Homo sapiens: one gene and its partner. The protein of the gene in region 1 purifies or fractionates together with the protein of each later gene. This does not show direct contact. Each region holds a gene or a part of one and is shown in the gene's direction. Other genes may lie near its edges.

The links. The genes of interacting proteins can lie anywhere in the genome.
Region 2: the proteins of SERPINA6 (region 1) and COL4A2 purify together in Homo sapiens (affinity purification with mass spectrometry, with the first as the bait; one large-scale study listed by BioGRID). This does not show direct contact.

What each region holds. Positions count from the first base shown.
Region 1 is NC_000014.9:94,320,537-94,324,808, reverse strand, and holds the start of SERPINA6 (corticosteroid-binding globulin precursor), read left to right. Parts: upstream 1-1,472; 5' UTR 1,473-1,542; intron 1,543-4,272. UniProt on the Homo sapiens protein: Major transport protein for glucocorticoids and progestins in the blood of almost all vertebrate species.
Region 2 is NC_000013.11:110,485,284-110,488,783, forward strand, and holds part of COL4A2 (collagen alpha-2(IV) chain preproprotein), read left to right. Parts: intron 1-371; coding exon 372-553; intron 554-3,500. UniProt on the Homo sapiens protein: Type IV collagen is the major structural component of glomerular basement membranes (GBM), forming a 'chicken-wire' meshwork together with laminins, proteoglycans and entactin/nidogen.

The sequences.
Region 1 (4,272 bases):
AAATAAAGATATAAACAGAAATCAATGAAATATCAATTTTTTAAAAAACCAGTAACAAAACTAAAAGGTGGATCTTTGGAAAGATTAATTAGCTATATAGATCTCTGTAACAGGACTTATCAAAGGGAGAAAAGACATAAACAAAATACAGAACAAAAAAAGAAAAAAGAATTACTGATATAAAATAATAATGTAAAAATAATAATGGAGAGGCCTAATGAATAACTGTAGTATTTAATTTGAAAATCTAGATGAAATAGATAAATTCCTAGATATAAAGTTCAAACTTGCCTTATAGGATAGGAAACTTGAAAAGACCAATAAACATCTACAAAACTAAGGTGTCTCCAAAACTGCAGACCCATTTGTAGGCTCTACTCTCCTCTTTTCCCCTGGGAAGAGATTCCCTCATCTCTGGATGGAAGCAATGATGCTGTCAACCCAACAGAGAGCAAAGAACCCTAGCGAGGCATTCACAATGCCTCATCCTTCTCCACACTGTGATCAATCAGTCCTAAGGGGGGCAACCACGCCATAGACTTTTGGGGGGAACTGTTATGAACATTGAGAAAAATGAGAATTTCTCTCCTTCTGATATCAACTAACCAGTTAGAACTAAATAACCCAGAGCTACTGTGGCCACATTTGTCCCCAATGCAGACAGAATAAAGTAGAAGAAAGCAGAGCTAGGAAGGAATAAAAAAAAAAAAAAGACAGAGAGAGAGAGAGAAGGAGAGATCTGATGCCTGATTTAGAACTCCGTAGATCCATGCCTGAAGTCCTTTCCACCCTTGGACCTCTCATTCATTCCTTTTTGCTTTAAAGCAGTTCAAATTTGATGTCTGTCACCTGTAATCCAAAGAAAACTGATGAAAAATAAAATGTGGGGAAAGGGGAAGGTGCTAGACTTTAGAATTGAATGGCCTTGGATTTGAATCTCAAGGGCGTTTAACTTAACTTCCATGCAGCTCAGTTTCCTATCTAAAGAGGAGTGACAATGGTACCCACTTCACAGAGTCATTGTGAAGATTTCGTGAGATAATCCAGAGGAAGCGCTTGGCAGATATTATTCCATGTCTGTCTCTCCCACCAGACTAAGACCACTGGAAGGCAGGACCTTGCCCAAGTCATCCCCAATTGGAGCTAAACACCTATTTTTCTTTTTACAAGTATCTGCACCTTGGTGCTAATTAAGGGCACCTAAGACATCTCTGCCAACTGACACAGGGCAACCACATTGATGCAACTCCAGCCACATTTTGGTATTAAAAAAAGACTTCATAGAATTGAACGCAGAGCAAAGTTAATTTGCAGCATTTCTGTGTTTACTCAGCTATCCTGACAAAGCCTCCCATTGGTTAATGACTCGGGGGAGAGGACTACCAAGCGGTGAAGGCCACTGGCCCCTCTAACCATTAACCACCCAGGAAGCTGGCAAACAAAATTTAACAGGCAGCATCCACCGCAGGCTTACTGTACACATGCTAGGGTCCAGGACAGCAGGACCAAGCCAGCAGAAACAGCCTGAGCCCACCGCAGACTGTGAGTAACACCTGAGAACCCTCTGTCCCTCCCCCTGCCCAGCCTCCAGAGCAAAGCCATGGCTGCAGCTCGCTTGTTTGGTTTGTTGAGATGCTTTGTTTTTTTAAAGGGCACATTGAACATTAGGGCAGCCAGCAGTGTTATGAGGCAATCTGGTTAGGATTTTCCAGACCCCGGAGTCTGTGAGTCATCCACAGGGGTTCCGATGTCCCCTGGGTTCCTGCCATGCAGGGGGCTGACACAGAGGGCTGTAGCTAAGAACCATTCTCGTCCACTGCCATGATTGATGCTCCTAAGCCCAGCCAGATAGCCACAACAGCCACAACAGCCACAGAGTCGCAGCCTGCAAGCTACAATGCATCTGCTCCAGTCGGCACCACCGATGAAGGATGCTGGCCGCGGGTCAGGGCCTGGGAGGGCTCAGCTGGCCCAGTGCAGGGGTATTCTTCTGAGTCACGCAGACCTGTCTCCACCATGGCTCCTCACTCAGTGACCTGGGGCAGAGATAATGCACAGAGAACAGAACTGTCTGCACTGTACCACATGTCATGAGGTTTCACTACAGAAGGTCAAGAACTGTGCCTGGCTCATAGGGCATTTGTGAAAACAGAGAACACAGTGAATATTTACTAAGTGAGTCTCTTCAGAGATGAGGAACAAAGAGGGCATACTTGACATGAAATGCATGAATAATATTGATACTCTGCATTTTTATATGGCTGGGTACTTTTTTGTTTGTTTGTTTGTTTGTTTTTTAAGATGGAATTTCACTCTTGTTGCCCAAGCTGGAGTGCAATGGTGCGATCTCGGCTCACTGCAACCTCTGCCTCCTGGGTTCAAGCTATTCTCCAGCCTCAGCCTCCCGAGTAGCTGGAATTACAGGCACACACCATCACACCCAGCTAATGTTTTTGTATTTTTAGTAGAAATGGGTTTCGCCATGTTAGCAAGGCTAGTCTCGAACTCCTGACCTCAGATGATCTGCCCACCTCAGCTTCCAAAAGTGCTGGGATTACAGGCATGAGCCACCACACCTGACCATGGCTGGGTACTCTTAAGAGCTGCTTTACTCATCATTTTGCTCTCTGTAGAGATAGGCAGAATGGCATGGCACAAGCTCCGATGTCAGACATCTAGGCTTAGAATTCCAGCTCAGGGGGAGTTACTCTGTCTCCCTGGATCTCAGTTTTCTCATCTGTAAAATGGGCCCCAGGATGACCCATTAAGTGAGGTCACATAAGCCAAGCACTGATAACAGCCACGTCTGGTATTCACAACAATATTGTGGGGTGGATGGAGTTTTCACCCTCATCTTAGAGAATTAACGCAGGAGAAGGTGAGACATGCAATCTCCCCAGAGCTGGCAGGGGAGCCCATCCTACCATTGGCATCATACCGCACAGGGCCTGTGCCTGAGAGGAGATCCCAGATAGGTATGGCAGTGACCAAAGCTAAGCAAAGATTTCACTGCCTGTCATGGGGCAAGGCCATAGAGAAGCACAGATACAAGGCTTCCTGGAGGCGGTGACCTGGGACCTGAGTCTCAAAGGACAAGATGGAGTGAGCCAGATGAGGCAGGGAGATGAGGGACCTACAGACTGGAGCCACATAGGCAGGACTGAGGCAGATCCATCTTTGTTCCCTGCTCCCAGTCCAGAGCTGGGCTCAGCAAACATGGAAAAATCAAAATGACCTGCCCTGGGGAACTGCAGTGACCTGTCTTGCTGTAACCTGCCCTATAGTGATGTGACATGCCCTGCCCTGCCCCACAGTGGGAGAAAAGGCTGATGTGTGCTGGAAGAACCCCTGGCACCCAGTGTTGCTGTGGCTGAGACCCCAAAGGGCCAGATTTGAGGCTGGAGGCAGAACTGTCACCAGGGACTGGGTCACAAAGACCCCCTGGGCTACATTAGTGAGAATCAGCCCTGTGGTGGGCAATGGGGAGTCCCTGAAAACTTCAAAGCAGAACCGATCAGCTTGAATTTTTGAGAATTTAAAAAGATGCAGCTGCAGATGGGTAAAAGGGCTGGAGGGAGTTGAACAGGAGGCAGGGAGACGAGGTAGGGGCTACTGCTGAGTCCTGAGAGAGATGAGGAGGCTGTGCAGAGGCACTGGAGAATAGACAAACACCAGAAAAATGGGTAAGGCTAGAGGTGTTATTATCAGCTCTATTTTATACTGTGGAAACTGAGGCAGAGTTTAAGTAGCCTGTCCCACATCACCTAATTCATACATGGCAGTGCTAGGGCCCCAATCCAGCTTGATCTGCCACGAAACCCAGGATCTTTTCTGGGTTTCGCGACAAAAGAATTGTCGCGAGGACCCAGAAATCCAAGTCAGAAACCCGATGGAGAATTCAATAAAGCCCATCATTTGGGTGCGGGGAGTGGGGAGCAGGTCACACCTGCCTCTATTATCTAAAGCAGAGAACTAGGGGCTAGAGCAGCCAACAGGGGTTGTTTTCCACCCTGGTGAGATAAGGGAGACACGCAAGGAGGGTTTTGGGAGACTCAGGAGAACTAAGGGTTTTGCGGGGGAGTTCCCACCTGTCATTCTTGAGATTCTGCTTTTGGAACACACCAGGGAAGGGGCCTCTAGGGAATTCCAGAGCAGAACAGTGGTTCCCACGCTCGGAGCGCACCTGTTAAAAGAAAACTTTAGACAAATTAAACGTAGCAGAGTTTATTTGAGCAAAGAAACAATTCATGAATCACACAGCACCCTAAACCA
Region 2 (3,500 bases), on another chromosome or scaffold:
GAGGCCGAGGCGGGTGGATCACAAGGTGAGGAGATCAAGACCATCCTGGCTAACACGGTGAAACCCCGTCTCTACTAAAAATACAAAAAAATTAGCCGGCATGGTGGTGGGCGCCTGTAGTCCCAACTACTTAGGAGGCTGAGGCAGGAGAATGGCGTGAACCGGGGAGGCAGAGCTTGTAGTGAGCCGAGATTGCGCCACTGCACTCCAGCCTGGGCGACAGAGCGAGACTCCGTCTCAAAAAAAAAAAAAAAAAAAAAAAAGATTCACAGCACGTAGGACAGCAAAATGCATCCAGGCTGCAAAATTGAAAACTGGAGGGCGGGTGCTGCGTCCTCACCAGAGTGTTACACACCAGGGTCTTCCTGCAGGTATCCAAGGAATGCCAGGCATCCCAGGGCTGTCAGGAATCCCTGGGCTGCCTGGGAGGCCCGGCCACATCAAAGGAGTCAAGGGAGACATCGGAGTCCCCGGCATCCCCGGTTTGCCAGGATTCCCTGGGGTGGCTGGCCCCCCTGGAATTACGGGATTCCCAGGATTCATAGGAAGCCGGGTGAGTGGGCGTCTTTTACTCCCCTTGTTCTGTGAGCTCCTCTCCCCTTTGCTTGTGAATGGACATGCTTTGGTCTGGAATTTGCTAGGGTGAGAGTGTCAGTGGCAGGTTCAGGGCAGCCTCAGGCTTGGTGGGGTCCACACAGCCCTGGAAGGAGCTGCTGCACTTGGACACCATGCAGATGTGATGTGAGTCCAACCGGCTGCCGTGGCCCTTCTGTGGGCTTGTGCTGGGTGAAGCATGTTGTCTGCATTTTTCATGGTGGCCTTGAGAGAACAAAACTTGAATTTTCAGGGATCAGAGCTCTAAAATTGAGCACATCAGTGACACCAGGCCTGAGAGCCCATGGCCGAATCACAGCGTAGACCTGGGCCCGGCAGCCTGGCTTCCCATCCGGGCCACCGTTCACTCAGCCTTTGTTCAGCGGATGTCTGTTGAGCACTTGACATGGGCCAGACACGCTGTTGTGATGGTAACAATGGTGAGCCCTGACCCTGGGCAGGGCTCTCTTCTCCACACCTTCTCCCTCAGCTGCAGAATGAAGGTAGTAGCTACCTTGCAGTTTTCTTGAGTGCTGTATAGACAGTGTGTATAACATAGCACAGCGTGGCTCCCCATAGATTCCGTTTCCTAGAATTCCATTTCTAGCCTCGTTCATATGAAGATAGTGTATTCTCACAGTCCCTAGCACACGGCTGGCCTTCCCAGGGGGATGGGCACATTTGGAGCAGATCAGAAGGTCTGGGCCCCTTGATGTGTTTCAGTCGCGTCCGTGTGAAAAGACCACCAAACAGGCTTTGTGTGAGCAATCAAGCTGTTAATTTCACCTGGGTGCAGGCAGGCTGAGTCTGAAAAGAGAGTCAGCGAAGGGAGATAGGGGTGGGGCCGTTTTATAGGATTTGGGTAGGTAAAGGAAAAAGGGGGGTTGTTCTCTGGCGGGCAGGAGTGGGGGTCACAAGGTGCTCAGTAGGGGAGCTTTTGAGCCAGGCTGAGCCAGGAGAAGGAATTTCACAAGATAATGTCATCAGTTAAGGCAGGAACAGGCCATTTTCACTTCTTTTGTGGTGGAATGTCATCAGTTAAGGCAGAAACCGGCCATCTGGATGTGTACGTGCAGGTCACAGGGGATATGATTGCTTAGCTTGGGCTCAGAGGCCTGACAGTGTGAACCCTTAGTAGCAGGCCAGGGCCTGCCTGTGTGTCTGTCTGGCCCACCTTGGTGTACAGAATTCTTCAGGGGTCTTCCTCCCCTCACTCCCAAAATCTGCAGCTGAGAGTATCTTCTAGCCAGTCTGTGTGTGCTATTCAGGTCACTTTAAAAAAGAAAGATGCCAGCCAGGTGCAGTGGCTCTTGCCTATAATCCCAGCACTTTGGGAGGCCAAGGCAGGCAGATCACTTGTGGTCAGGAGATCGAGACTAGCCTGGCCAACAGGGTGAAACCCCGTCTCTACCAAAAATATAAAAAATTAACCGGGTTTGGTGCTGCGCACTCATAATCCCAGCTACTGGGGAGGCCGAGGCGGAAGAATCGCTGGAACCCAGGAGGCGGAGGTTGCAGTGAGCCGAGATTGCGCCGTTGCACTCCAGCTTGGGTGACAAAGCAAGACTCCATCTCAAAAAAAAGACAAGAAAAAAGAAAGATGCCTGTTTCTGCCAAAGACACCTACAACATCCAAAGGACCTTTATTCATAACAGCTCGAAACTAGGAAACAGCCCAAATGTCCATCAACAGGGAAAAGAATAAATGAACGTGGTATATTCTAACCAGACACAGCATTATCTGTGCATTTTATCTCCATACACAGCAATAAATGAGAATTCTTGGTAAAATCCAACAACCTAACTTCATTTCCAAACTTTATGTTGAACAAAATAAACCAGAAACAGAAAAGTACACGATTCAGTTTCATCGATGTGAAGTTCAAGAACTGACAAGGCTGTTAGATGGGGTATCGGGAGCACAGCTGCTTTAGGTGGGGTTGTCATAGAGTGCTGACAGTGTTCTGTGTCTTTCAGTGACACACGAGTTCAGATGCATTGAGCTGTGCGTTTAAGATGAGTGGACATTACTGTATTTAAGTTTTGCTTCAGAAAAGTAAGCTTTGAGAAAGAAAAATAGAGCATTACCTAAACAAAGGTGCAGCCTGTGGATACCCTCCCCCTTCCTCCCACAAAGGAGCTTTTGTTTTGTTTTGTTTTGTTTTTTGAGACAGAGTCTCACTCTGTCACCCAGGCTGGAGTGCAATGGCATGATCTTAGCTCACTGCAACCACTGCCTCCTGGTTCAAGCGATTCCCCTGCCACAGCCTCCCAAGTAGCTGGGATTACAGGCGCACGCCACCACGCCCAGCTAATTTTGTATTTTTAGTAGAGACAGGGTTTCACCATGTTGGCCAGGCTGGTCTTGAACTCCTGACCTCAGGCAGTCCACCCACCTCGGCCTCCCAAAGTGCTGGGATTCTAGGCCTGAGCCACCACCCCCGGCCTAGCTATATTAATACTGCAGCGACTCATGTTAGGCCATGCTTGTACATTGATGCTGTAGTACTAAAGTCCCAGTGGCACCCAGGTAGACCAGAACTCTCATGCTCCCTCTGGGGAGGAAGCCACTCTGGAGGGGAAAACTAGGGCTTCCAGGAAGCCACCGAGCAACTCAGGCATCTTCTCAATTTCCTTACCAGCCACCTGTGTCTTTCTGGAGAAGTCTCCCTCTGTGCACAGATGGAGGCGCACAGCCCCATATCTGTGTTATAATCTGCAGAGAGCAAGCTCTGCAGTCTGGCTGCCCAAACTGAAATCCCGGTTCTGCCACTTGCTGGCTGAGTGACCTTAAGCAAAACCTTTCTGTGCTTCAGTTCCTTTGCCTGTCATTGGGAAGTAACGGTGCCTGCCTGGCAGGGTTTTCATGAGGCGTGAATACGCTCTTGAGACGGGGTCCACCATGT